Linked DNA regions of Homo sapiens. The protein of the gene in region 2 purifies or fractionates together with the protein of the main gene of each other region. This does not show direct contact. Each region holds a gene or a part of one and is shown on either strand. Other genes may lie near its edges. The genes, in order: DRC1, ZNFX1, MIEF1, DROSHA and CSDE1.

What was found.
Region 1: the proteins of ZNFX1 (region 2) and DRC1 purify together in Homo sapiens (affinity purification with mass spectrometry, with the first as the bait; one large-scale study listed by BioGRID). This does not show direct contact.
Region 3: the proteins of ZNFX1 (region 2) and MIEF1 purify together in Homo sapiens (affinity purification with mass spectrometry; one large-scale study listed by BioGRID and IntAct). This does not show direct contact.
Region 4: the proteins of ZNFX1 (region 2) and DROSHA purify together in Homo sapiens (affinity purification with mass spectrometry; one large-scale study listed by BioGRID and IntAct). This does not show direct contact.
Region 5: the proteins of ZNFX1 (region 2) and CSDE1 purify together in Homo sapiens (affinity purification with mass spectrometry; one large-scale study listed by BioGRID and IntAct). This does not show direct contact.

Annotation. Positions count from the first base shown.
Region 1 is NC_000002.12:26,407,159-26,413,134, reverse strand, and holds part of DRC1 (dynein regulatory complex protein 1), read right to left. Parts: intron 1-5,976. UniProt on the Homo sapiens protein: Component of the nexin-dynein regulatory complex (N-DRC) a key regulator of ciliary/flagellar motility which maintains the alignment and integrity of the distal axoneme and regulates microtubule sliding in motile axonemes.
Region 2 is NC_000020.11:49,256,784-49,262,759, forward strand, and holds part of ZNFX1 (NFX1-type zinc finger-containing protein 1), read right to left. Parts: intron 3,795-5,976; coding exon 3,680-3,794; intron 882-3,679; coding exon 634-881; intron 1-633.
Region 3 is NC_000022.11:39,505,290-39,511,265, forward strand, and holds part of MIEF1 (mitochondrial dynamics protein MIEF1), read left to right. Parts: intron 1-4,132; exon of another isoform or gene 4,133-4,282; intron 4,283-5,976. UniProt on the Homo sapiens protein: Mitochondrial outer membrane protein which regulates mitochondrial fission/fusion dynamics.
Region 4 is NC_000005.10:31,507,017-31,512,992, forward strand, and holds part of DROSHA (ribonuclease 3), read right to left. Parts: intron 4,161-5,976; coding exon 4,019-4,160; intron 1,760-4,018; coding exon 1,605-1,759; intron 1-1,604. UniProt on the Homo sapiens protein: Ribonuclease III double-stranded (ds) RNA-specific endoribonuclease that is involved in the initial step of microRNA (miRNA) biogenesis.
Region 5 is NC_000001.11:114,750,399-114,756,374, forward strand, and holds part of CSDE1 (cold shock domain-containing protein E1), read right to left. Parts: intron 1-5,976. UniProt on the Homo sapiens protein: RNA-binding protein involved in translationally coupled mRNA turnover.

The DNA.
Region 1 (5,976 bases), on a different chromosome or scaffold from region 2:
GTTTTAGAAAAATATGTAGACTATAATACACATTTTCTTTTTAAAACAGGCTTGGCTGGGCGCGATGGCTCACGCTTGTAATCCCAGCACTTTGGGAGGCCGAGGCGGGTGGATCGCGAGGTCAGGAGATCGAGACTACCCTGGCTAACACGGTGAAACCCCGTCTCTACTAAAAATACAAAAAATTAGCCGGGCGTGGTGGTGGGCGCCTGTAGTCCCAGCTACTTGGGAGGCTGAGGCAGGAGAATGGCGTGAACCCGGGAGGCGGAGCTTGCAGTGAGCCGAGCCGAGATAGCGCCACTGCACTCCAGCCTGGGCGGGAGAGCGAGACTCTGTCTGAAAAACAAAAACAAAAACAAAAAACAGGCTTATATGTGCACAGGACATTTTCTGGAAGTATATATGACAAACGAATAACAGCAATTACTTAAAGAACAGGAATTAAATTACTGAGAAGTTCTATTTTCTACATTTTTGTATTGCATGAATTTTCTAAATAGTGCATGTGTGTGTGCTTGTCTGTGTGTGTGAATCAGAAAATGAGACTAAAGGGGCGGTGGCGAGATAAAGTTCCAGATTATAGACTTCTTCAGGGGAGGCATGGGGGAGTGACCTCACCAACCCCCACGCCACTTACATCATCAAGACCCTGCTCTCTCCTCTGGCACACAGTGTCCATAAGGGCTACCAGTACTGCCTTAGGAAAAATGAAACCTCAACATGACACAGCAGGTTTGTTTTTTTGTTTGGTTTCATTTCGTTTTTTGAGACGGAGTTTCGCTCTTGTTGCCCAGGCTGGAGTGCAATGGCGCGATCTCGGCTCACTGCAACCTCTGCCTCCTGGGTTCCAGCAATTCTCCCGCCTCAGCCTAGCAGATCTCTTTATCTCATTCTTTCTTGACTTTTTCTAACTCTGACTTCCATCTCTACTCCCTTTGTTCAAAGTCCAGGACAATCCTACCTAGTGTAACACTATTTTGGAGATACAGAATTGAGTTACCATCCTCCACTCCCAATCTAACCAAAACCCCTTGTTTTTTTCTTGTCATTTCATTGGCTTCCCTATTCTTATTGAACATGCTCTTTGTTTTCTTACCAAGTAAACTAATTGTTCCATTTTACTCAGGTCTTCAGCTATTGCCAGGCTTATCATGTTCCCATCACCACTCAAAAAATTCCCTTGACTTTCTACTTTGACCACCAATTAATGACCAACTCTATTTAAATAATCCCTTCCAAGTGCTTTCTGGATCAAAGATCAGTGCTTCAGAAACAAACAAACAACAACAACAACAAAAAAACCATGCAGTCCAGATATGCTATAATTTTTTTTTTTTTTAAGACAGAGTCTTGCTCTGTCCCCAGGCTGCAGTGCAGTGGAGCCATCTCGGCTCACTGCAACCTCCGCCACCCAGGTTCAAGTAATTCTGCTGACTCAGTCTCCCGAGTAGCTGGGACGACAAACACGCACCACCACACCCAGCTAACTTTTGTATTTCTAGTAAAGATGGGGTTTCACCATGTTGGCCAGTCTGCAGATATGCTATAAATTCTTATTAACTACTATTAACTTAAATCTCATCATTGTCTTTTATGCATCATTTTTTACTGCTTAGCACTGTACTGTCCAATATGGTAGCCAATAACCACATGTGGCTATAAAGCACTTGAAATGTGCCTGGTGCAAATTGAAATGCGCTATGAGTGTAAAATACACTCTAGATGGATTTTGAAGACTTTGAACAAAAAATATTTGCAATATATCTCATCAGTATGATTTACACTGATTGCATATTAAAATAATACTTTTATATATTGGGTTAAATAAATTATTAATTTCACCTGTTCTGTTTTTACCACTTTCAATGTGGCTACTAGAAAACTTGAAATGACATATGTGGCTGATACTGTATTTCTGTTGTTCAGCAGTGTAGAACTAGTATGTTCTCCAAAGCAACTGTTTCAGACTTCTGTCTATTCAGATTTGAGCTCCCTCCCTCCTGGGGGCTGAGTCCTCTTTTGGGAAGCTGTTTCCTCACCACCGCCCCATGTTTGTGGTCTAAATGGGAGCTGCCATCTTGAATACTCTACTTCCTGACCAATTCTCAGGATTTAAAAAAATTGGAACTTGGTTGATTGTCTACCTGGGTTTAGAGTTCTAGGTTGGAAATAACTTTCCTTCACTGCTTCCTTCCAGTGTTGCTAACTGAGAAACCTGAAGTCATTCTGTCTTTATGCCTTTCTTTGTATGTGACCATATTTTTGTTTTTTATATGTGACCATGTTTTTGTTTTGTTTTGTTTTGTTGTGTTTTGTTTTGTTTCACTCTGGAAGCTCGTAGGCCCTTTCTCTTTATTCTCAGTGTTCTGAACTTTCTCAATGGTGTGCCTTAGGGTGGGTCTATTTTCATCCATTGTGCTAGACATTTCAATCAGGAACCTCATGATCTTCAGGTCTGAGACATGTTCTTGAATTCTTTCCATGATAATATGCTCCCTGCTCCATTCTTTCTGGATCTAGAAAAGTGATAATATCTTCTAATTAAAAAAAAATATTTTTCTCTGGCTGGGTGCAGTGGCTCATGCCTGTAATCCCAGCACTTTGGGAGGCCAAGGCGGGTGGATCACCTGAGGTAAAGAGTTCGAGACCAGCCTGGCCAACATGGTGAAACCCTGTCTCTACTAAAAATACAAAAATTAGCCGGGCATAGTGGCAGGTGTCTGTAATCCCAGCTATTTGGGAGGCCAAGGCAGGAGAATTGCTTGAACCCAGGAGGCAGAGGTTGCAGTGAGCCGAGATCATGCCATTGCACTCCAGCCTGGGCAACAAGAGTGAAACTCCGTATCAAAATTAATAATAATAATAATAATAATAATAATAATAATAATATTTTCTCTATAAGTTTCTACCTTTTTTCTTTGCGCTCTATTTTCTAGGTGATTTCATCATCTTTATTTTCCAACCCTTCTAATGTTTTCTATTTCTATAATTTTTTTATTTCTAAGAGCTCTATTTTTTTTCTCTGAACACTCCTTTTAGTAGCATTCTATTCTTGTTTCGTGGTTGCCATATCATCTCTTTTTTCTTTGAGGATCTTTTTTTTCCCTCTTTTTCCCCCAAAGACTTCAAAACTCTCTCTGAGGATCTGAATGATCATCTTTTTGTGGTATTCTTGTTTTTTTCTCCCCACATATAGTCTTAATGTCCTCTTAGGTGCTTTTTTCTCTTTGTTAATTTTCATATCTACCATTCATGTTAAAGACTTTCCTCAGATGCCTAGAAATCCTCAGTTACTGACTCATGACAAGAACTAAAAAGCCTATGAAAAAATTAAAACATGGGTTAAAAATAAATAAACACTGTTTTACGTGGAAAAAATCAAGCTAATGATAAAACAACTCTTATGAGGTAGCTTTTAAAGCTGTTTTCACTTATATCATGTAATTTTAGAACTTTGAGTTCCATTATTCTAGTTGTTGCTGAATGTGTCTATTGCTCTTATTTTCAAAATGTTCTCCAAATTCTTGCCTATCTTGTCTGAGATGTACCAAAGACCTAAAGCTATAAGTATAATGGTAACTTCCATGACAACTTGGGAAAAGGATACTAATACTACCAATTTTACATGTCACCATCTTCACAGTAGCTACCTAGTTGTTGTTAAAGAAACAGCTGCCTTTAAAAAAAAACTACATAAAGGATGGTTTGTTTTGGTTATGTGTACATAAACACACCTGATTATACAGAATCCAAGAATTTAGAGAAAATAAGGACAAATTAGTATCATTTCAATCTAAGTCCCTAGCCATTTGGAAGCTTGTAATATGGTGTCAGGATAAAGCAGAAAAAATAAATTTTAATAGTGTGACAAATAAAAATTTAAACATTAAAAACAAGCTGATGGGGCTGAGCACAGTGGCTCATGCCTGTAATCCCAGCACTATGGGAGGCCAGGGCAGGAGGACCACTTGACCCAGGAGTTTAAGACTAGCCTGGGCAACATAGCAGGACTCCATCTCTAAAAAAAAAAAAAAAATTAGCCGGGCATGGTGGCCTGCACCTGTAGTGCCAGACACTCAGGAGGCTGAGGCAGGAGGACTGCTTGAGCCCAGGATTCAAGGTTATACTAAGCTATGATCAAACCACTGCACTCCAGCCTGGGCAATGGAGTGAGACTCTGTTGCTTAAAAAATAAATAAATAAATAATAAAAATAAATTTTTTTTAAAGCTGACGGGAGCTGTGAGTACAAGGGTGTGGCTTAACAACTGTGCATGTCAGCGTGGGCTGATTTAATCGGGCTGCTTTGTGAGCAAACCCGATGTTAGTGTCTTTATTATTTTTATTTTATTTTATTTTATTTTTGAGACAGAGTCTCCCTCTGTCACCCAGGCTGGAGTGTAGTGGCACGATCTCGGCTCACTGCAACCTCCGCCTCCCAGGTTCAAGCAATTCTCGTGCCTCAGCCTCCCAAGTAGCTGGGATTACAGGCATGCACCACCACGCCGCTAATTTTCATATTTTTAGTAGAGACGGGGTTTTACCATGTTGGCCAGGCTGGTCTCAAACTCCAGACCTCAGGTTATCCACCCCTCTTGGCCTCCCAAAGTGCTGGATTACAGGCATGAGCCACTGTGCCCAGACCAACATTAGTGTCTTTAAATCCTTCTTTTGGGGCTGGTCGGATTCCACAGAGAAACTTCTCCAGCCTCCTGCCTGGAATATGAAGGCTGAAGTGCCACCATTCCAGGAACTGGTGAGAGGAGAGCTGGAAGGTCCTGGCATCCACTGTGCATATTTTCCCTGAATCCCCTTATTTTCCATGAAGTATCCTTGCCTCGCCTCTGTCTAGCATCCCCCAAGCCCTAGATCCTCCGCTTGACTTTCTCCAAACCTCCAATCTTCTGTGCAAAGAGAGAGAAAGGTTCTAGGCATCTACCTATTAATTTTCCAATCGGTTGTCCTTATTTTGGTTCCCTTTGTCACCTCCACTTCTAGATGTCAACTGAAAAAGAGTCAGAATCCACAAAATCAAAAGAGAACTTTATTTCTAAAGGACACAACCTGCAGGCAGGAAGCAAGCTTTCAACTGAGACTGAGAAGCAGGCTTTGAAGGGGAGAAAATAAGGCAGATATTTCTGCTAGGTGAGGAGGTAGGAAACGCATATTCTACAGGATATAGGAGAAGGTTGTGAATATTTACGGAGAAAACTCATTACGCACGTGCATTAGGCTTACATGTGCACGGAACATACAACAATATGCTACTCATGTTCACTTTGGGGTGGAGATTTAACATTTAAATGTACTACAATTGGGTCATAAATGCAAAAAGGTGATGCTTAGGGCACAAGTCCAGGATCTGTGCAGTCTCAGGGAACCGGTCCAAACTGGCCTGAAGTTGGCAGTCGTCCAGGAAGAGGTCTCTGTGGTCCAGGGTTGTTGTCAGGTTGGAACCATAAACATGAGGAGGAGGGTGCCGGGTGGTCGGACGAAGTAAGCCAAGGAGTCTTCTGGCCTTTTGTCATCTTCAGGTCAGCCTTTGATAAGACCTCATAATAATTAGTAAAGGGACGGGGGTAGCAGGAAGTGGACATGTCCAGTCTCCTGTCACTGCTAAGGGCTAAGAACTTTGAGGTCTCTCGGCCACAGAGGTCCTGTCACTCCATTGGAAGGGCCATAGGATTTTTTAAATCCTCACGGATGAATATGATATGCCATCAGTCTCCTAGTCTTTGGGGATTTAGTGCAGAGTAAATCAAGGGGGTTCTCAGCTTTCTTCACTATCAGCTTATTTTTCCATCTTCTTGAATCTGCTCACCCATTTACCATCTATCTTGTGCTTCCCAGCATCCACAATTTCATTGCTGTTGAGTCCTCCTGATCTTGACTTTGTGGATTTGCGTCTTTTTTACTTAATCCCCTTAAATATCATTTTAATGGAGTTAAAATGATAGAGATCTAAGGTAGATGTATG
Region 2 (5,976 bases):
CATCCAAAGTTGCCCTTGAAAGTTCTCAAATCATTGGTAAGGTTTACAAATTCTTATTTTGAATATCTAATCCTCGATCATCATAGTTATGCATGGTAAACAGTGAGGACTACTAGGCTCCACCAAAAGGAGCAGAGGGAAGGCTACATGAAGACACCTGGGCATTCATACAATTCTGGCTTTAAGAGAAGTGTCAAATTCCAGGCTGAATGAAGGAGGAATATTCCATCCAGCCTGGAGGTCTCGCTTCATTGCTTACTTTAATCCTCTAAAATCTTAGTACATGTTCACAAACTCATTTGAAATAGAGAAAACAACACTCCTGAAGGCATTAAGTACTGAGACCGTGTTTGACCTGACTCATATGTGCTACATTCTTCCACAAGTTCTACAGAAGCACTTGGCTACCTGCTTCCTGTCTTTCTAAGTTGGCATTTCTTGCCAGAGGCCCTCTGAAGAACCATCGTATTTATATCCTTGGGAATCACTAAAGCCATCTCATACCAGGGGTAGGCTGTAATACAGGTACTTAGCTAATTGTAATGGTGAAGTGAATATACTGTATCAGAAGTGGGGGAAAACAAGCGGTCAGAACACTCTCAGGCCTGTTTCAACCCAAGGAAGTGAGTTTACCTGCCACTCTCCTGTGGCTTGCTCCTGTCCAGCTGCTGTCCCAGTGCCACAATGGTCTAGCCTCATGGCCAGAAGCATTTTAGCCAACTCCTGGTCTGCTCCACTCTCTTCCTTCTTCCGCCGCTGGGGCCTCACCACCTCTTCCTCCTCAATCACCCGGTCTGCTTGAATCAGGTCAGCTTCCTCTGCGATCTCTATCAGCGAACTCTCCTCCTCCCCTTCTTCCTCCTCATCCCCTTCTGCCTGGGCTAAGAGAGAGAAACAGGCAGGAGAGAGATGAAAACTCTTTTTTTTTTTTTTTTTGATATGGAATCTCGCTCTTTTGCCCAGGGTGGAGTGCGGTGGTGCGATCTTGGCTCATTGCAACCTCTGCCTCCTGGGTTCAAGTGATTCTCCGGCCTCAGCCTCCTGAGTAGCTGGGATTACATGCACCCACCACCACGCCTGGCTAATTTTGTAGGCTAATTTTGTATTTTTAGTAGAGATGGGGTTTCACCATGTTGGTCAGGCTGGTCTCGAACTCCTGACCTCGTGATCTGCCCGCCTTGGCTTCCCAAAGTGCTGGGATTACAGGCGTGAGCCACCGTGCCTGGCCAGAGATGGAAACTCTTGAAGCTAAGGGACAGAAGACGGCACCTGCAAGAGCTCAGATGCATGAAGACATTATCAAGGGTTTATGTGATTTTTTTTTTTTTTTTGAGACGGAGTTTCACTCGTTGCCCAGGCTGGAGTGCAATGGCACAATCTTGGCTCACCACAACCTCCACCTCCCGGGTTCAAGCGATTCTCCTGCCTCAGCCTCCCGAGTAGTTGGCATTACAGGCATGCACCACCACGCCCAGCTAATTTTGTATTTTTAGTAGAGACAGGGTTTCTCCATGTTGGTCAGGCTGGTCTCGAACTCCCGACCTCAGGCCTGCCTCGGCCTCCCAAAGTGCTGGGATTACAGGTGTGAGCCACTGCACCCAGCCCTATGTGATTATTTTTGAGAAGAGAAACTAAAAGGAATGAGAGGAGAGTTAGGAAAGGCTTAAGGTCTCCTTATATACTTTTTGTTACGTTTTACGTTAAAAAATCATACGAATATATGCCTTTTAAAGAAAGGTTTTGGCTGTGCGTGGGGCTTATGCCTGTATCCCAGCACTCTGGGAGGCTGAGGTGGGTGGATCACCTGACGTCAGGAGTTCGAGACCAGCCTGGCCAACACGGTGAAACTCTGTCTTTACTAAAAATACAAAAATTAGCCAAGTGTGGTGGCGCATGCCTGTATTTCTAGCTACCTGGGAGGCTGAGGCAGGAGAATCACTTGAACCCAGGAGGTGGAAGTTGCAGTGAGCCGAGATCGTGCCATTGCACTCCAGCCTGGGCAACAGAGTGAGACTCCATCTCAAAAATAAATAAATAAGGCTGGGCGTGGTGGCTCATGCCTGTAATCCCAGCACTCTGGGAGGCCGAGGTGGGCAGATCACCTGAGGTCAGGAGCTCAAGACCAGCCTGGCCAACATGGGGAAACCCCATCTTTACTAAAAATACAAAATAAGCTGGGTGTGGTGAGTGTGCCTGTAATCCCAGCTACTTGGGAAGCTGAGGCAGGAGAATTGCTCGAACCTAGGAGGCAGAGGTTGCAGTGAGCCGAGATCACACCATTGCACTGCAGCCTGGTGGACAGAGTGAGACTGTGAGACTCAGTCTCAAAAAAAAATAAATAAATAAATAAATAAATAAAATAAATACACAATAAATAAATAAAGGTTTTACTTATACCAAATACATATACAATGGAGGGCATACAATGTAAATATGTAATATAAAGGATAATAAAAATATATAAAATGAATACCCAAGTACCTTCCACCCAATTTAAGTAGAAAACTGACAAATTTTTTGAAGACCTTTGTTAGCCTTCCTAACCCGAATTTTATATTACTCATTTCCTTTTTAAAAGATAATAATGTTACCACATTTATACTGTATCTAAGTAACACATTGTCTAGTATATATGTTTCCATAACTTGCCTTTTTTTTTTTTGAGACTATGTCTGTCACTCAGGCTGTAGTGCAGCATTGCAGTCATGGCTCACTGCAGCCTCAACCTCCTGAGCTCAAGCCATCCTCTCGCCTCAGCCACCTAAGTAGCTGGGACTACAGGCACGCACCACCACACCCAGCTAAACTTTTTCCTTTTTTTTTTTAGTAAAGACAGGGTCTCATTATGTTGCCCAGGCTGGTCTCCAACTTCTGGGCTGAAACGATCCTCCTGCCTTGCACTTGCAAAGTGCTGGGATTACATGCATGGGCCACTATGCCCGGCTAACTTGCCTTTTTCATTCAGCATGTTTTTGAGATTCATATGTGTTACTGTATATGCTGTGTTTCATTCCTTTTCACTGTTGTACAGTATTTCATTATCTGAGTTGACTTAATTGATCCATCCATTGAAGAAATGTTGATGAACATTTGAGTTCTTTCTGATTTTCTGCTATGATAAAGTGGTTATGTAAATTTAAATATCCCCAGCAGCAGTGCATCAGAGTTTCCATTGCTTCAAATTCTCATCAACATGGGGTTATATCAAACTTTAATTGTTGCCAAACTGGTGTGTAAGTAATAGTTATCTCATTGTGGTTTTAATTCCTCTAGTTTTTAATGAGCACTTTTCATATATCTATTGAACAATTTCCTATTTTGTGATGTGCCTGTTAAAAGTCTTTTATCTCATTAGCTGCGCGTGGTGGCACTTGCCTGTAATGCCAGCTACTTGGGAGGCTAAGGCAGGAGAGGAGAATCGCTTGAACCTGGAAGGTGGAGGTTGCAGTGAGCCGAGATCACACCACTGCACTCCAGCCTGGGCAACAAGAGTGAAACTCCATCTCAAAAAAAAAAAAAAAAAGTATTTTATCTCTTTTCCTTATATTAAGCTATTTGTCTTTCTCTGATTGACTCATAGCTCTTTATTTATTCTGGGAATTATTTTTAAGTCTCACTGTTCTGGTATTTACTATATTCTACGTTAAGATTTGATTCTAGGAAGACATGCACTTCTTACCTGTATTCTCAGGTCCTGCTGGAGAAACACTTTGCGTGAAAGAACCGACACCAAGACCTAGCCACTCCAGCATCATGGAATGCTTCCAGTGCTGGAAGCAAATCCATTCACTATCCTAAGGAAAGAAGAATGATCATTTGTGAGGATTCTATGACAACCAATGTGAAGGCTGGGTCTCCTCAAAGAATCAAAAGCAGATTGGGGCATGGTAGCTCATGCCTGTAATCCCAGCAATTTGGAAGGCCAAGGCAGGAAGACTGCCTGAGCCCAGAAATTCAAGACCAGCCTGGGCAATACGGTGAGACCCTATGTCTTTAAAAAGAGAGAAAAAAAAAAGACTGGGCGTGGTGGCTTGCGCCTGTAATCCCAACACTTTGGGAGGCTGAGGCAGGCGGATCACCTGAGGTCACGAGTTTGAGACCAGCCTGGCCAACATGGTGAAACCCTGTCTTTATTAAAACTACAAAAATTAGCCAGGCATAGTGGTGCATGCCTGTAGTCCCAGCTACTCAGGAGGTTGAGGCAGAAGAACTGCTTGAACCCGGGAGGCAGAGGTTGCAGTGAGTGGAGATTGTGCCACTACACTCCGGCCTGGGTGACAAAAGCAAGATTCTGTCTCAAAAAAGCTGGGTGTGATGGCATGCACATATAATCCCAGTTACCCAGGAGGCTGAGGTGGGAGGACTGCTTGAGCCCAGGAGGCCGAGGCTGCAGTGAGCTATGATTATGCCACTGCCCTCCAGCCTGGGCTCAAGACCCTATCTCAAAAGAAAAAAGAATCAAAAGTAATTCCCTTAAAGTTTATAGGCTGTACTATTCACAACAGCAAAGACATCTAATCAACCTAAATGCGCATCAATGAAGGACTGGATAAAGAAAACGTGGTACATATATACCATGGAATACTATGCAGCCATAAAAAAGAATGAGATCATGTCCTTTGCGAGGACCTGAATGGAGTTTGAGGGCATTATCTTTAGCAAACTAACACAAGAACAGAAAACCAAATACTGCATGTTCTCACTTATAAGTTAAATGATGAGAACACATGGTCACATAGAGGGGATCAACACACTGGGGCCTATTGAAGGGTGGAGGATGGGAGGAGGGAGAGGAGCAGGAAAAATAACTGATGAGTACTAGGCTTAATATCTAGGTGATGTACAACAAACCGCCATGACACAAGTTTTTTTTTTTTTTTTTGAGACAGTCTTGCTCTGTCGCCCAGGCTGGAGTGCAGTGGCACGATCTCGGCTCACTGCAAGCTCTGCCTCCCAGGTTCACACCATTCTCCTGCCTCAGCCTCCTGAGTAGCTGGGACTACAGGCGCCCGCCACCATGCCCGGCTAATTTTTTTATTTTTTTAGTAGAGACGGGGTTTCAGCGTGTTAGCCAGGATGGTCTCAATCTCCTGACCTCGTGATCCGCCTGCCTCGGCCTCCCAAAGTGCTGGGATTACAGGCGTGAGCCACTGCGCGCTTGGCCTCATGACACAAGTTTACCTACGTAACAAACCTGCACACGTACCCCTGAACTTAAAAGTTAAAAAAAAAATTAAAAAAGAAACATCATATTGTTAAAAAAAAAAAAAGTTCAGAGGCTGTGAACTGGCATCTCCTTGGGCAACTGGAACATTTAACATGACTTGTATAGAATTTTAAAAATCAAAGGGCTGGGCACGGTGGCTCATGCCTATAATCCCAGCACTTTGGAGAGCCGAGGTGGGCGGGTCACCTGAGGTCAGGAGTTCAAGACCAGCCTGGCGAATGTGGTGAAACCCTGTCTCTACAAAAATTAGCCAGGCATGATGGCAGGTGCCTGTAATCCTAGCTACTCAAGAGGCCAAGGTAAGAGAATCGCTTGAACCCGGGAGGCGGAGGTTGTAGTAAGCCAAGATCGCGCCATTGCACTGCAGCCTGGGGTGAGAGAGTGAGAACTCTGTCTCAAAAAAAAAAAAAAGAAGAAAAAAAAAAAAGAATTAAAAAAATTTTCCAGCCTATTTTGACAAAATCAGGAGCTATGGCAGCAATGACTGTTTATTACTGAATGGCAACAAATGGCTGGAGCTGGGTTGCTACCACATCTGTTCTAGTTTGCCACAGTCCTCTCCGCTTCTTAATATTTCAAATCTAGATTGCTTCACTTATTTGTAAGACCTGAATGACCTCTGTAAGCTTTTGGTTTGTAATCCTGTAAATCAGCAACCTAATGGTAACAAAGCTACCATTTCACTGGGTTCCTAGCCTGCCACTTTACAGAGACTGTCTCAGTTATTTCTTACCATATCTTTTGAAGGT
Region 3 (5,976 bases), on a different chromosome or scaffold from region 2:
TCCTCCCTTCTCAGCCTCCTGAGTAGCTGGGACGCCAGGCATGTACCAATGTGCTCAGCTAATTTTTTATTTATTTATTTTTTTTGTAGAGACGGTCTTGCTATGTTGCCCAGGCTGCTTTCAAACTCTTAGCCTCAAGCGATCCTCCCACCCTTGCCTCCCAAAGCTTTGGGATTATAGGTTCAAACAGCTCTGCCTGTCCAGAAACTGCACTTTGTAGTCTGGAAACTTAAGTCTGATGTGGCCAGCATGGTACCCCTGTAAGGCAAATAGCCAGAGTTGAGGCTGGGCCTGGTCTGGAAGGACGTTGACTCCAAGTTGAGATTGTAATGTATATCTTCTTATGTGGGGACCATCACAGCTCTGTAAACAGAGGAATGACATAGCCACATTTGTATCGTAGAGGGAGCATACCAGTGGCAGTGTGAAGAATAAATTGATGAGAGATACTAGAGGCAGTGGATGTAGCCAGATCAGATTGAGGGACCGAGGGGTGGGGGTGGCCACATATAAACACAGTGTGTACAGCAGTGGGACTTGGTGATCAGTTGGCTGAGGCAGGAGGAGGAGAGAGAAAGATGAAGAGTAACTGGGTGTAAGGCCTGCCAGCTGGGTGGAGGGTGCTGCTTTTAACTGGGGGAGGGAAAGTAGGAAGAGAGCCTTATGTAATGACTTTTGGTTCTTCTCAGCCACTTAGGATTGGCATATCTGCCTTTGGCAGTACAGGGCCAGGGGTGGGGTGATGCCCATGGGAGCCTGTCTGCACAGGGAGGGTTGGCTAGCGGATCTAGGAGGGAATTAGGGCGTTCCTTGAAATCTTTGTGTTCCTAATATATTTTGGCTGTGAGTTGGGCTACACGCTGCTATCACTACCCCCTCAAAAAAACCAAGAAACAAAACGCCGTAGAGTTAATACTTCATTCCCACAACATATACTCCCTATGCATCAAACACTGCACACCCTGGGGATGCAGCAGTGAATGAGCCCAAATGTCCCCCAGAAGCATATGGTCTGGGGGTTAATGGAGTGGAGATGGGAACAAGGTGTGGAGCAAGTACCTAGGACCCCTGTAGATTAGTTCTCCGCACCGCGTGATCTCAGGGTTCAAATCTTGGTCACATACTTTACTGACACAGTGACCTTGGGTCAGTTACAGAAACTACTCAGTTTCTTCATCCTTTAAATTTGGGATAATATTACTGATCTCATGGGATTGTTGTTGTGAGGATTGAGGGAATTAATAATAAGTGTAAAATTGCCAGCACATAATACACACTCAATATCTGCTACCTAGTCTCGTACATACTCAAGCAAGATAGGTTTATAAAAAGGCCTATGGCTTTTTCAATTAAAATAAGTTGGAACTTTCACACTTCTGTGCTGTCATCCTAGGAAGCCGCAAGGCCTCCATTATTCATCATCCTTAACTATATTAGGGTGATGAGCATTTCTGTTCCCATTTTTGTATCTAGCGAGACAGGTTAAATAACTTGCCTGAAATATTGGCAGAGCTGAAATTCTCCATCCCTAGTTCTGCCCACCAGGTCTGTGTTCCTTCTTTGTTTTTTATTTTAACCATCTTAACCATTTTAAAGTGTACAGTTCAGTAGTAGTAAGTATATTCACATTGTTGGGTAACAGAGCCCCAGAACCCTTTTCATCTGGCACATCTGAAACTCTGTACCCATTAAGCAATGGGGTTCCTTCATGACAGTCCCGATTGGAGGTGGAGTTCTTACCTGCTAGTAGGCTGTAAGCTTATGCAGCAGAACCTGAGTGGAGAGCGTGTCATGGAGAAGCAGTTTAAACTGGAACAAGTTGAATTAACTTTTCAAGTAAGGTCCGTGTCTGTCTGTTGAGCTTGTGGATGCCGTCTTCTGTTCCAGGTCACCAGGTCTGTGATGTCAGTCCGTCCTTGGATGGTGGGCGGGGGGTGCCTATTGCACTACAGTAGGAAAAGCCTTTTTTTCTTGAGATGGAGTCTTGCTCTGTCACCCAGGCTGGAGTGCAGTGGGTGCAATCTTGGCTCACTGCAACCTCTGCCTCCCGACTTCAAGCGATTCTCCTGCCTCGGCCTCCCGAGTAGCTGGGACTACAGGCGCCTGCCACCACACCTGGCTAATTTTTTGTGTTTTTAGTAGAGACAGAGGTTCACCGTGTTAGCCAGGATGGTCTCGATCTCCTGACCTCGTGATCTGCCCACCTTGGCCTCCCAAAGTGTTGGGATTACAGGCGTGAGCCACCGTACCCGGCCGAAAAGGCTTAACAAGCTGGCCCAACTTAATAGTTTTGATCTCAGCTGTTGGCTCACGCCTGTAATCCCAGCACTTTGAGAGGCCAGGGTGGGCAGATCACCTGAAGTCAGGAGTTCGAGACCAGCCTGGCCAACATGGTGAAACCCTGTCTCTACTGAAAATACAAAAAATTAGCAGGGTGTGGTGGCTCATGCCTGTAATCCCAGCTACTAGGGAGGCTGAAGCAGGAGAATCACTTGAACCTGGGAGGTGGAGGTTGCAGTGAGCCGGGATTGCCCCACTATACTCCAGCCTGGGTGACAGAGTGATACTCAGTCTCAAAAAAAAAGAAAAAATAGTTTTGATCTCAAGTCCAAGATGGCATCACTGCGAATTTTCAAGGCCGTTTTAGAGCAGTCTCAAAAGGTGCACTGTCACTCAGAGGACAGTCTGGGTTGCTGACTGACTTCTGGAAGCTGACCTTTGTCCTGTGGATGGAAATCTTAAAAGACTAGAGGAGAACTCATTTGTGGAGCACTTTTACAGTTTATAGACCATCCACTGCAATACAGTTTATACCGTTCACATACAGGATTGCAGTGAATGGTTTTTCCTCACTACAACCCTGTGATTTGGTCCCACGCGGGGACCATTATCCCCTTTTCGTAGCTGAGGTGTTAAGTAACTCATTTGAGGTCACCCAGCTAATAAGTCAGGGCTCAAGGCAAGTTCTGTATCTCAGGATTTCTGACTCTAAAACCCACGCTCTGTTCTGTCATCTGTAGCACCACCTTGCTCTCACCAGTCATCAGAAGGGCACCAAGGACTAAAATGGTCCAGGGAGGCTGCTTCTGCCCTGAGTGAGGAGGTGCCCTTCTGGCCCTGCTGCATCACACTCAAGGATCATTTAGAGGGCACATGTGTCCAGTGGCTCTCCCTATTGTAAATATTTCAGTAAAGAGTTAAAACAAGAGACATTGTTATGTGTGGGGAAATGTATAGTGTTCTGCTTTTCTCCTGATTGGGTTATCTTGCCTCTGCTAAGTTTGGTTTGTCCCGTCTCTATCTCAGTGGCCACTGGAGAGAGGGTGTCTGCTGTTCTTCCCTGATTCCACCTGTAAATACAAACGTTATCTCTTCTCCCTGGCTTTGCTCTGTGCATTTGAGGTGGGAATGTACTCGGTTTGGCGAAATAGTCTTTCATGTCCCTAAACCTGAAGCCTCTATTGACTGTAAATGGTAGAGAAAAGGAAAGTACCCCCAAGGTGTGAACTCTAGTTAGGGAAAAAAATATTTTTGGGCTTGACAGTGACTCTTAGTTAACTCAATTACTGGAATAATAGAGTCAGAAATATTTCTTTGTTTTTCAGGGAGGTAGAGGCAGGAGCGTAAGATGTGGAAGCTAGAAATATCCACTTGTAACACGGTATTAGAAGGAATGTTATTTTACATGGAAGATAATCCTCAGTGATCCTTTTTTTTTTTTCTTCAAGACGGAGTCTTGCTCTGTCACCCAGGCTGGAGTGCAATGGTGATTCTCCTGCCTTGGCCTCCCGAGTAGCTGGGATTACAGGCATGCACCATCATGCCTGGCTAATTTTTTGTATTTTTAGTAGAGATGGGGTTTCACTATGTTGGCCAGGCTGGTCTTGAACTTCCGACCTCGTGATCCACCCACCTTGGCCTCCCAAAGTGCTGGGATTACAGGTGTGAGCCACCGCGCCCGGCTGATCCTGTCTCTTGATGTCCTCCCATTCTGGGACGCTAAATGGTATCCGACTTTGTTTTCCCTTATGTCATTCCTGGTGTGAAGGACACGGGATATTATAGAGGAGAGTGGCAGCATGCTGAGTGGTATTCCGATCTGAATCACACTGTCATCCTTTATCCGGCTCAGGCCCAGGGTTCTAACTCCACAGGAATGGGCTTATCTGGGGACTGCTGCTGCTGCAGTCAGGAAGACTCCACTGTAGTCGGGAGCAGCACTGGCCTGAGCACTGCACTGGAGGCCAGCCTCTTCGCTGTGGTGCCCAAGTACTTCTTTCAGGTGAACACATTTTTAGTTCCTCTTCCAGGTGTAATCGAGCAGATGGGTGTTTTGTTTTCCAGTTAGCAGTCGAGTCTGCAGTGTCCTTTGTGTTTTTTATCTCCCGGTATACCAGTCTCACCTAAGCTTTTATAGTCCCCGCTGCGCACTTCTCTCAAGAAACAAAGCATTTGTCAAGTAGGAGGGTCCATGGAGGGACCTTTCTCACATATGGACGTGTAGTTTCAGTTCCGTGTGCAGGATGTTTGGTACATGTTGTTTTGTGTTTTGTTTGCAGAAAGTAGATAGAATAAGGGCCGATTTGATTTGGGTAAGGGTGAGCATGGTACAGTAGAAAAAGCGTCATACAAGGAGTGGGGAGTCCTGAGTTCTGGAGATGACTGTGTCGTTTTGTTTTCGTTTTTGAGACGGAGTTTAGCTCTTGTTACCCAGGCTAGAGTGCAATCGTGTGATCTCGGCTCACTGCAACCTCCGCCTTCCGGGTTCAAGGGATTCTCCTGTCTCAGCCTCCTGAGAAGCTGGGATTACAGGCATGCGCTGTCACATCTGGCTAATTTTATATTTTTAGTAGTGACGGGGTTTCTCCATGTTGGCCAGGCTTGTCTTGAACTCCTGATCTCAGGTGATCCGCCTGCCTCGGCCTCCCAAAGTGCTGGGATTACAGGCGTGAGTCACCGTGCCCGGCCCATTTTGTTTTTTTATTTTTATTTTTAAGAGATGGGGTCTCACTCTGTCACTGAGGCTAGAGTGCAGTGGCGTGATCATAGCTCACTGTAGCCTCAAACTCCTGGGCTCAAGCATTCCTCCTGCCTCAGCCTCCTAAGTAGATAGGACTACAGGCATGTGCCACCATGCTCAATTTATTTTTATCTTTTACTTTTGGAGATGGGGGTCTTGCCATGTTGCTCAGGTTGGTCTTGAACTTCTGGCCACAAGCGATCTTCCCACCTCAGCCTCCCGGGTAGCTAGGATTATAGGCATGAGCCACTGCGCCTGTACCATTTCTTTTCTCTGAGACCTGACACATCACCTCCCTATGTTGAGAACCTCTGTGTGAGGTGATGTGATGGCATTAGATGAGCTCCAAGGTCCCGCTCAGATCTAACCTTCCACAAAGTAGTGGCCAAAGGACGAAGAAATGACCTGCATTATAACCCCTGTGATGGGGTAGAGAGACCTGCTTTATAACCTCTGTGAAGGGGTAGAGAGACCTGCATTATAACCCCTGTGAAGGGGTAGAGACCTGCATTATAACCCCTGTGAAGGGGTAGAGACCTGCTTTATAACCCCTGTGAAGGGGTAGAGACCTGCATTATAACCCCTGTGAAGGGGTAGAGACCTGCATTATAACATTGTGAAGGGGTAGAGACCTGCATTTTAACATTGTAAAGGGGCAGAGAGAGGGCTGTTTTGCATGGTGGGGTACTTCATTGTAATACAAAAAAGGACTGACACTGAGCTTAATGCTTTCTTAATCTCACTAGCTTGGGGAAAGTTTTCCTACAATACCCAAGATCAGCCCCTCCTCCTTGCATCCTGATCTATCATGGGACATTGTAGCTCCCTCCAGACCCTAAAGCATGCAGTGCTGGAGGCAAGAAGATTTGGGTTGCTGGAACTCACAGAGTACCCTGTACTTGTTGGGGTTTGGCTTGTTAGGGGAGGGAGGTTCTTGGGGTCCCAGTACTTATGGC
Region 4 (5,976 bases), on a different chromosome or scaffold from region 2:
AGTAAAAAGACTAGAGGGCCAGGCGCAGTGGCTCATGCCCGTAATCCCAACACTTTGGGAGGCTGAGGCAGGAGGACTGCTTGAGCCTAGGAGTTTGAGACCAGCCTGGGCAACATAGCGAGACCTCATCTCTACAAATAATTTTTTAAAACTACCTAGGCAGGCCAGGCGCAGTGGCTCACACCTGTAATCCCAGCACTTTGGAAGGCTGAGCCAGGTGGATCACCTGAGGTCGGGAGTTCGAGACCAGCCTGATCAACATGGAGAAACCCTATCTCTACTAAAAATACAAAATTGGCCAGGCGTGGAGGCGCATGCCTATACTCCCAGCTACTCAGGAGGCTGAGGCAGGAGAATCACTTGAACCCAGGAGGCAGAGGTTGCAGTGAGCCAAGATCGCCATTGCACTCAAGCCTAGGCAATAAGAGCGAAACTCTGTCTCAAAAAAAAAAAAAAAACTAGCCAGGCATAGTGGGACGCCCCTATAGTCCTAGATACTTGGGAGGCTGAAGCAGGTTTGGCCTGGGAAGTCAAGGTTCCAGTGAGCCGTTATTGCGCCAGTGCACTCCAGCCGGGGCAACAGTGTGAGACCAGGTCTCAAAAAAAACAAAAAAACAAAAAAACCCATATATGGAGGAAGTTTATTTTACGGGGGACAAAAAATGTTCTAAAATTCAATTGTAGGGATAGTTGTGCAACCCCATGAATATACTAAAAAATGCTGGATTATAAATTTGAAGTACAATTGTATCATATGTAAATTATAACTCAACAAAGCTGTTTAAAAAGAAAACCAAGTTTTAAAATGCATTGGCAGTTCTGCAAACATTTCTGCTCAATTCCAAAGAGTAAAAGGAACACACAAAATACATTTCTGCCAGACGTTCTATAAAAAAAAGATGGATAGCTGTCATCTAACAAGAACCAGGAGAAAAGCATTTTAATTAATATAGAATGTTATAAATTTACTCACAAAATATAAATTTTAAATTATCTTTTTACAGATATGCCTTAGCTTCCTAACTTTACATGCATTAAAGATATAATTTTTGTATGTATTATATATCTGTGTGACACAAATCTTTTTTAACAATGCTAATTTTATTATGTATTACTTCATATTAAGACAGTAATTAAAAATAAAAATAATTATGTCCACCTATTATGTTTTTAGCTCAAACATGCTTAACAAGGAAGAGAACTTGTGACTGTTACCAACTAAAAAAAAGAAATCTTATAGGACTTATTTACTATTTTGCAGCAAGATACCTTCCAGGTGAACTACTTCTAAAAAGACCTCCAAGTTCTCTCTCCTCATCCTACCATGTGTCTCCTTCCATCTACTGCAATTTAATGAGGCAGGGCCATTACTCCTCTCCCCAACATGGAATTTACAAACATCATCAAAAATGATTCAAGGGACAGCTGCTCTGGTGCTTATGCTTTGGAACTAACCTGAAGCTGAAAAGAAATAGCTCTGAAGGACAAAACCCTGACAGTAAAATTCAGTTTCAATACTAGGCAACATGTATCTTCTGAGCCCAGAGCAATAACCGTTATGTCTGGGTTTGCAACCTTCACAGCAAGGGCATAAAAACACGCACCTGGCCTGGATCGTTGTACCAAAGTTCATCATGAAGTCGGTCAGGGTGGGCCTTTTTGCGTTTGATTTCTGCAATAACGTCAAAAACTTCAGAGTCTGAGCTGCTAGAACAGGTGCTGTCCTCATCAGACTCACACTCGGATTCACTGGAACTCTCTAACAGGGGTTGGGAGAAAAATACAGAAATTGATGGAATTAACAAACTGGTTTTTTTTTTTCCCTGAGTTGGAGTCTCGCTCTGTCACCCAGGCTGGAGTGCAGTGCGCGATCTCAGCTCACTGCAAACTCCACCTCCCGAGTTCAAGTGATTCTCCTGCCTTAGCCTCCCGAGTAGCTGGGATTACAGGCGCCTGCCACCACACCCAGCTATTTTTTGTGTTTTTAGTAGAGACAGGATTTTGCCATGTTGACCAGGCTGGTCTCGAACTCCTGACCTCAGGTGAAACACCCGTCTCGGCCTCCTAAAGTGCTGGGATTATAGGCATGAGCCACCGCACCCGGCTGACAAACTGGTTTTTGTGGAGGCTTCCAAATGACCTAAACCTCTAAAGGTAAGAAGAGTTCTTTATTCTTCTAGAAAATACTTAAAGGCCTACTCTACACCAAATACTCTACTAAGCAACACCATAAAAAAAAAATATAGCCCATAATGCTAAGTCACAATCTAGTTGGGGAAGCAAAGAAAATAAAGATCTTTAGAGAGAAAGTAAGACTTGATGAGCAATGTCAGATAAAATGAAAAACCATAGTAGTAGTACGTAGTTTAACACTTAAGCTATGTAATGATCCATAAAAGGGCAGTTTCACTGGGATCCAGAAAGGCTGGTGATAATTTCAAAGAAGGAGCACATGTGACCCAGGCACTGCAACAGGATGGGAGAAGCATGATAAGGAGGAGAAAAGAAGAAAGGAATGAAGAGGGAGCATCGTAGGCAAAAGCGTGGAGCTAAGAACACAGTGGACTAGCTAGAGCGCGGGCCACACGGAAAAACACTGGGAGGTTAGGGGCTGGGAGTGCTGGGAATGCCACAGCGAAGGCTGGGAATGCAAGACCAAAGACTTGACATTTCTTTTCCCTCAATAACAGCAAGAGAAGGTGTTAGTCCTTAAAGTGACTGAATAAAAACAGACACAGACTTATGCTAACTGAAATATGCCAGTCACAAAAAGACAAATACTACATGATTCCACATATATGAGATGCCTGAGAGTCAAATTCATAGAGGAAGAAAGTAGCATAGTAGTAATAAGGGAACGGGGGAACTGGGGTCTGGGGAGTTATTCCTTAACAGGTCCAGAGTTTCAGTTTTATAAAAGGAAAACAGTTCTGGAGACTGGTTGCAAACAAGGTCATGTTGAACCCTATTGAACTGTACGCTTAAAAATAGTTAAGATGGTAAATTTTGTATTACTTATATTTTACCACAATTTGAAAAAAAAAAAAAACAGACCTAGAAGTTAGATTAATCCTACATAGTGAGATTCCATCTCCACAAAAAGAAAAATAATTAATTTTTAAAATAAATTAATCCTATAAGAGATTAACATAGTAGTAGCATAATGAAATCCAACATGGAGTTGTATTTACATGTACTGCATGAGATAGATGCTACTGTCTACTGTCATCCCTATTTTACAAATGGGAAAAATCTAAGGAGATTAACCTGTGGCCCAAGGTCACATATCAAGTAGGTGGTAGAGCAGGGATTCAAACCCAAGCCATCCAACTCCCAACTCAGGTGTCTTTGCCCAGTATGGATAACTGCCTCTCAGCGTGTGGGATGTAATGGAGGTGGGCAGATAAGAGCTAGAGAGAACATGTAGCTAAATGCACACTGAATGTCTCATCTGTGCATGGCATTCTGTTAGGGGCTAAGGATACAAAGTGATAAAAAGCAATTTCCATTCTCAAAGATCTCACAACCTACTTGGAACCTCAGAACATACACATGAAAAAATAGACCACCTTATGAAAAAGCTATGCAAACTGTCTACACAAGTGGAGAGAAACCTTCAAACAGAGCTGGGGTACAGTCGCTGTTTCCCTCATCAAACCAGGCGCACCTGGCAAAGGAGAGGGCCAAGGAAGGACACCTGTCCTCATGAGAGGCAGGGGGCATGGGCTCCTGCTCTCGGAAAGATGCTGAACTCTTCTGACTGGACAACTCTCCAAGGGGCACCCTTGTTAGCATGCCTTGCAAATGAGATCGCTGCTGTATTCTGCCAAATGAACTAAGGAAAAATACGATCAAAAAGAAGGAAGTTCTACTGCTATGTATCTTACTGACTGTAATTAAGAAAAATAAAATGAAAAAGAAGAAATCTCAATGTGGGACTCTCAAGGGTATTTCCCCAAAATTTAGGAATGAAGCTATAATCGCAAGGGTCTCAGGCTAGTTAGTGACTCTGACTCACCTAAATCTTCATCGAGCTTCGTCTTTGGAGGTTCCCACGGAGGCCGAGCAGCTTTGGCCTTTTCTTGCCTGCTCCCCAACTCCTCCTCAAATTTGTCATATAAGTCACGAAGCCTACTCGTTCCAACCACTGTAGAATCTCCCTTTTAAAAATAAAGGATCAATATTAGGAACTATATCAATAACGATCATATCAAAGATATGTAAGATCTCACAGGTAATCAAAGCATTTTTAACAGCAAGATGCTATTTTTCAACCCTAAATTTAACAAACATTTAAAAACAAAATGCTCAAGTACTGGCAATCATACTCTGAATCAAACACACACTTATCGCTGACACAGTCTTCAGGTAAATGTGCCTTGCCAACATTCAGAAACATTAGAACAGGCCAGGCGTGCTGGCTCACGCCTGTAATCCTAGCAACTTTGGGAGGCAGAGGCAGGAGGATTGCTCGAGGCCAGGAGTTCAAGACCAGCCTGGGCAACATAGCAAGACCCCACCTCTATGAAAAAGAAAAAAATTAGCCAGGTGGTGTGTGCCTGTGCTACCTGGGAGGCTAAGGCAGGAGAACTGTTTGAGCCCAAGAGTTGGAGGATGCAGTGAGCTATGACTATGACTGTGCCACTATACTCTAGCCTGGGTGACATAGAGAGACCTCATCTAAAAAAAAAAAAACAGAAAAGAAACATTAGAACAGTTCATCTATGCCCTATTAATATGACATTTTTTAAAAAATCATGACCCTCAGAGAATCATGACAACTGACATCAAATACCCTCATAGGGAATGTACACTTCCTACTGAAAATCACTGATAACCTATCTTCTCCTATATCAATCCATCGAGCAATAAGAAATATCCTATATATCCCCTCTCTCTCTCTCTCACACACACGCACACACACACACACACACTCTCATGCCTTAAACACGAGGACATAAACATGCACACACTCTCTCTCACACACACACAAACACATACCACAAACACGGGACTCTGCAACAGATTCCTAGAGAAAATTTTCCACTTTTCCTCACTCAATTTCCAGGTTGAAAATCACTTTACATCTCCACACTCTGACTTAGTAGCCTTAAAATGTAAAAACCAGACCTGTCAAATGTAAAATTAAGGCAAATCATAAAATCTGGTACCCAGAAGAGGGGATAATTCAGGCCCCATCTCATTGTTGGGAGTGGCGATGCCGGTATAGCTTTGACATTCTCACCACCTTCTCTGCACCACACAGACGACAAAACTCAAAGGCAAATGTCAGCCTTTTGAGTTTATCAGTCTTCCTCCTACACTGGAGTTTTAATATACTCATAACGATGTAATAAAAAACAACCAGCCCTGCCTGTTTAAACTCCCTGAACTTCAGTGTCTTCATCTTTATTGTTTTAAGAATAATAACACCTATGGCAGCCATTCTTCCCTTCTTCCTAATAGAAGCAGGATTCTGTAAGATTTGGAGAAGAGAACTCCTGATCTCTGGGAAGGTAGGCTGAGCCACCAGCCCCTCCCAAAGATGTCCATGTCCTAATCCCCAGAAATTAAATATATATGTTAACTTACATGGCAAAAAGGATTTGCAGCTGGGTGGACCCAATCTTAGAACAGGAATCCTTAAAATCAGGGAACCTTTGCCAACAGGGGTCAGAGATACAACAGAAAAAGAGGCAAGAGATATTCAAAACACGAGAAGGACTCGACCACCATTGCTGGCTTCGAAGACAGAGGAAGGGATCCACAAGTCAAGGAATGCACATGGCCTGGAGGAACCAAGAAGTGCCCACACCTGACAGCCAACAAGGACACAAGGTCCTCTGTCCTCCAGACACAAGCAACTGAACTCTGCCAGCAACCTGAATGAGCAAGAAAACAGATTTTCTCCAGAGCCTCCATAAAGGAGCACAGACCTGCTGACATCCTGATGGAGCCAGTGAGGCCCATGCTGGA
Region 5 (5,976 bases), on a different chromosome or scaffold from region 2:
TATCTCATACCCAAGACCTCAAATTATTCCATAGTCTTTATTGACCTCTTCCCCCAAATAAGCTCAGTTACATGGCATAATGTTTAATTTAGTGCAAGTATTTTATAAGGATCTAGCTCTGTGGAAAACATAAAAGAAGTCCCTGCCATGAGAGCATAGACAATCTTGCTGAAAAGACAAGATGTAAACATGGAAAAAAAAAACAGAGTATAGGACAAAAATGCCAAAAATTATTTTGCTCAATTAGTATCTAGGTATCTATTATGTCACAGACTATCTAGAAATATTATTTATTGTTTATCCACAACTGCATGTCCATCAAAGCAACCAAGGCTTTTAAATAAGTGGAATTTGAAGTGAACCTGGAAAATCAGGCAGAATTCTAGGAGAAAGAAAATAGCTGAGTATTCTAGGCATGAAACAGCACATAAGTCAAGCGAGAATATGCCACTAAATTCTTTCTTCAGAGCAGCGACCATGCATTCTATGATTTTCTAAGCCCAGCATCAAGTGAAGTCTTCTGCATGAATGCCTGTGGCAACATGTGTGGCTTGTTGTTTCAGAGGAAAATCAACAGGCTAGCCTGGCTAGAACAGAGAGCTGGGCTGAAGTGAAATAGGATATGTAGTGTGACAGGTGTAGCGGAGCCCGATTATGAAGCATTTCAACGTGATGTAACAGGAAACAGTGCCTTAGTTTTTGATGAAAGTGGTATTAAGTCTTGAAATCCTAAAGGAGATGACTTAGTAAGCAAACAGAAATCTCATTTGCACTGCTGCAGTAAATAGATGAGAAATGTCTATAGAAGAGAAATAAAATTTATTTATCAGTAAAAATCACATTTCTGCTTTATATTAGCTATAAAATAAACAACAATTTTGCACTGACTCCAAAGTTACAAAATGGTGTTAACGAAAATTATTTCTACAGAGATAAGAAAAAGGTGTACGTGCTGAGAAATGGATATTTGAAAACATCAGAAGAATGATTATCAGGTGAGAGGTCAGAGCTGATTAAATAGCTCAGACCAGAAGAGCCTAATCGCAATCACTGGTACTAGTAAATACCATGAACAAGTTATTTAATCTCTCTAAGTTTCACTTTCCTCACATGTAAAATAAAAACTCAATAACAGCTGATCTGGCCATTTTCTATTCTCTAACATCCCATGTTCCTTCAAATATCAAATGTTACATACACTTGTCTGATCTTTCAACTTTATTTAGATCATTCTCCTATTACCCAGACTAGATATATGTCTCAGGGTAATGGTGCTCAAATACTTGGGAAGCTTTAAAAAAAAAAAAACAAAAACAAACCTATGCCCAGCCTCCACTCAGAGTAATACAACTGGTTTGAGGTAGGGCCACTTCTTTAACTATCTTGATTCTTCCCCTCTCCATCACCATACCCAATGTTGCAAGTTGTGTTAGTATTTCCCTCGCTATATCTTTTGTATTCATCTCTTATCCTACTAAGTGACATATTTTAGCTCAGGTGTCTAATATATCCGCCAACTTCCAGTGTGCACACTTTCCATTTTCTGTCACATACCACCACCAGACTATCAAAAACTTGAATTTTGGCCAGGTGAGTTGGCTCACGCCTGTAATCCCAGCACTTTGGGAGGCCTTGGCAGGAGGTCTGCTTGAGCCCAGGAGCTCCAGACCAGCCTGGGCAACGTGGAGAAACCCCATCTCTACTAAAAATACAAAAAATTAGCCAGGCATGGTGGTATACGCCTGGAGCCTCAGCTACTTAGGACTGGGAAGTCAAGGCTGCAGAGAACAAGATAGTGACACAGCACTACAGCCTGGGAGACAGATCAGAACCTTGTCTCAAAAAACAAAACAAAACAAAAACTCTCCAATTTCATTTCTCATCTCCCCTGTCAAACATCTTCAGTTATTTTTCCACCATTCTAGATGGGAAGTTTTTAATCCTGGCTATCCACCCACCCCCAGCAACCTTAAACAAACAAACAAACAAAAACCAACAAAATCAAAGCCTGAGTCCCGTACAAAGATTCTAAATTTAACTACACTAGGTTAGGTGCCAGGCCTTGTTATCTCCCCCCAACCCCTGCTCCAAGTGTTTCTGACTTCCAGCCAGGATTAAGAACTACTATTCCAGGTGTCTCTATTCTACCTTCCATCCTTACTCTCTACTGTGTTCCAGTTCTACCAGAAGTCCATTACCTCGCCTAATCCTTAAACACAACTCTTGGGAGATTCCTGAATTCTAGCCACCTTTGCTTATATGGGTCTTCCCACAAAAAAATACTATGTTGTGATCTTCAAGGTGACAAAAAAGCCTTTCTTGACCATTCCAGCAGACTCATTCATTAATTCCTACTAATGAATGGGGCAGTAACATCCACTGCCTGCACCAAGCAATTTGCAGCAAGTGATACCAAGCAATTTCTGTACTTTGTTTACTTCATGTTTTTATGTATCTTGTTCCTCCAATTCTATTTCAAATTTCTGAGAGGTAAACTCAAATTTCTTTATCACAGCCTCCTTTCGCACCTAATCCAGTGCTGCCATATACAACCAAAGGAAAAAGGTAGTTAATCCTTAATAAGCAAAAGGACGCCACAATTCAAGTGTAAACAGTTATGCCACAATTCAAGTGTAAACAGTTATACCACCTTTAATTATATAGTTTTAATTATCCAATCAAGAAATAATCTCTTCTTTAAAAAATACAGACTGTGTATATTGGTTTTATCTTAATGCTTTAGGTGTATTAATGAACCCAAAGAACTCAACATGGAGAAAACAAGTTATCTTGAAACACTTGAACTGGATTAACCCATTCCAGGTTGTCGTATCACATTAAGAACTGTCAAGTCCAAGATTCAGTAACACAAAAAAAGAGATTTCTGGAACTGAAACTCTGGAGTACTGCAGGGCCATTCTTAGGCACTAATGAGGTCTATTAGGAGCTATTAAAGCTCAAACGAACCCACCAACAGTCATGAATAATTTACTGGCCGAATTAACATCTTCACAGCTTCTATAGTTAACTAAATGTTTTTCAATTAAATTAACACTTACTGAAGAACTTAAAGGTATTGGTCAGGCAGTTTAATATAAATAGCTATCCACTCATGCCCGGATTAACATTAATTGGTGCTACTAACCACCTCTTTTGCCTTAACCCTAGGAACACAAGTGCATCTCCTCCATCCCCCTAAAAGCTTGAAACTTAAGTTGCATGAAACACTGGGTATTGGGCTGGGGTGGTGGCTCTCGCTTGTAATCCCCAGCACTGTGGCAGGCCAAGGTGGGAGGATTGTCTGAGACCAGCCTGGGCAACATGGTGAGATGCTGTCTCTACAAAAAATTTTAGAAATAAAAAATAAATTCACTGGGTGTGGTGGCATGCACCTGTAGTCCCAGCTACTCGGGAAGCTGAGGCAGGAGGATCACTTGAATCCAGGAGTTTGAGGCTGCAGTGAGCTATGACTGTGCCACTGCACTCTTGCCTGGGCGACAGAGTAAGACGCTGACTCAAAACAATCGCCCCCACAAACCCACCATAGGGTACCAATAAAAACACTAGGGAACAATTTAAATGTGTATCTGAGAATCATACTGTGTGCTAAGTAATCAACTCCTTTTCCCTTTGCTCAGCATGGAAATAGTATTATTACTTAATCACTGCAATCTCCACCTCCCGGGTTCAAGCGATTCTCCTGCCTCAGCCTCCCCAGTAGCTGGGACTACAGGCGTGTACCACCAGGCCTGGCTGGCTAATTTTTGTATTTTTAGCACAGATGGGGTTTCACCATGTTGGTCAGGCTGGTCTCGAACTCCTGACCTCAAGTGACCCACCTGCCTCAGCCCCCCAAAGTGCTGGGATTACAGGCGTGAGCCACTGCACCTGGCCACCACCTGTTTTATTTCATGTCTTCCTCGGCTGTTTTACCTCAAAGGCCTAGCATAAGCCATGACATAGTCGGCACTAAATGAAGAGGTTAAACTAACACATTTATGTGGTAAGTAATCCATCTAAAATGTATCACACTACCTAGTTTATTATTTTGAAAGTATGTGCAGCACTCACTTCGGGAAAAGTTAATGAAAGGCTAAGCCAGTCTACAAAAGTCTGCTCACCTAACCCACTTCCTTTAGGCAGTATCTTCTTTTAGGCAGGAAAAAACAAAGACCCAAATAGGTAGCATAGGACTGAAAAGTTTCTCTATTGCCTGACATTTCATTGAGCACCACATTTTATAACTGAAGTGCTTAATAGGTCTTAATTCATTTTTACTTTAGGATCTAAGGTAAACGATAAACTCTAGATAATTAACCAACCTAAGTCATCTGTTGAGTAAAAATAAAAAATCAAACTGACACAACTATCTTTTTGTATCTGTGTAGTAACAACTGTGCTGGATTAATTATCTAAACAGCTACTGAGATATTTAAAATTATCTATCACTTAACTGCTTATATATACACCCAGAAACCTAATAGTTTTAAGCAGGACAAATGGCAGTGTGGGAAGATGCTGAAGAAACATTCTAGACACATCAGAAAACACCACAGACCAGCAGTTTCCAACAGAAATACAGTGTAATTATAATTCTAGTAACCATATTACAGTCAAAAGAAACAGAAGGAATTTTAATTAAACGTCTTATTTAACCAATTATATCCAAAATGTTATTCTCTACAGGCAATCAATGTAAAAAAATTGACACTGTTACATTCCTTGAAATCCAATGTTATTATACAATCACAGCACATTTCAATTCAAACTAGTCACACTTCAAGTGCACAACAGCCACACGTGGCTGGCGGCTACCATGTTCCACAGAGTAGGTATAAACTGAGCAGGGGTCTAAAAAAGCACTATTGTGCCAATTAGCAACAGGAAGTAAATGTAAGGGTCTTGAGCAAAGATTTTCACTAATAAAAGTAGGCAGTATCTAGCATAGAAGCTTGTTGTTAATAAATTGGAGAAAAAGAAGTGCAAATAACTGGTTATGTACCGGCTGTAGCTGCAAATCAACGGATAGCTTACATGTGCAACATAGGGGAAACTGATAATTTTCAGCCACACACTGTTTTACCTCAGCATAAAAGGACATTAAAATATTAAAAAGTTTTGTGTTGTTTTTAACTAGGTACCCACACATGCAAGTGGAAAACATTCTAATATCAAAACAAAGGACTTTTTAAAATCCTGACTGGGCAGAAGGGATTTAACAGCAAGTCACTCTCACCATAGTAGTTTCACCACTTACAACAGTCTAGCTATTAAAGCTTACAAAATAGATCTCAAAGTGCTTCCTCTTCTGTTTTCTGCAAGGACAAAGCTAAGAAGAAGGCACATCAATTCTTTGTGTTTACTTAACAAGATCAAGATTTTTATCTCATTTTGCAATACAGTCCTGAAATTCAACTCCTCAAAAATCTGTCCAAAAGAACATCGTTCCAAAATTTCCATGTTTTAACTACCTTGTCGAAAGTATGGCTCTCACAACAGTTTCAATAGACTTAGTGCCACTGAACTGTACAATGAAAAACACTGGAACACTAAATTTCATGTTATGAATGCTCCAGCATAATTTGATATTTTAGCATTTTGTTTGTTTAAAACAAAAATCGATGGCCCTACACGATGTGTCTTCAGGTGGGGAGAAGGGAAAATAAGGGTAGAGGGTAAAGCCAGACTGCACGTCAGCTTTCACGCTTTCAATTTTGATTTGCTAGGACTTTACCAGATTTTCACCCACACTCGCTAAAGGTCACACTTAAGTCAGTACTTACAAAAAAAGAAAACCTATCTTCTGTGCCTCAAATACTTTAGTTTTCAACTCAGCTGCTATAAATAATCATCTCGATGGTAAACATCCAGAACAGCTGCAAAACCAAACTATTACCTTCTCTTTTATTTTAGTCCCAGGGCTAAAACGAAACAAAAAGAAGGCCAAATATTTATCTAAGTTTTATGACTCAGGTA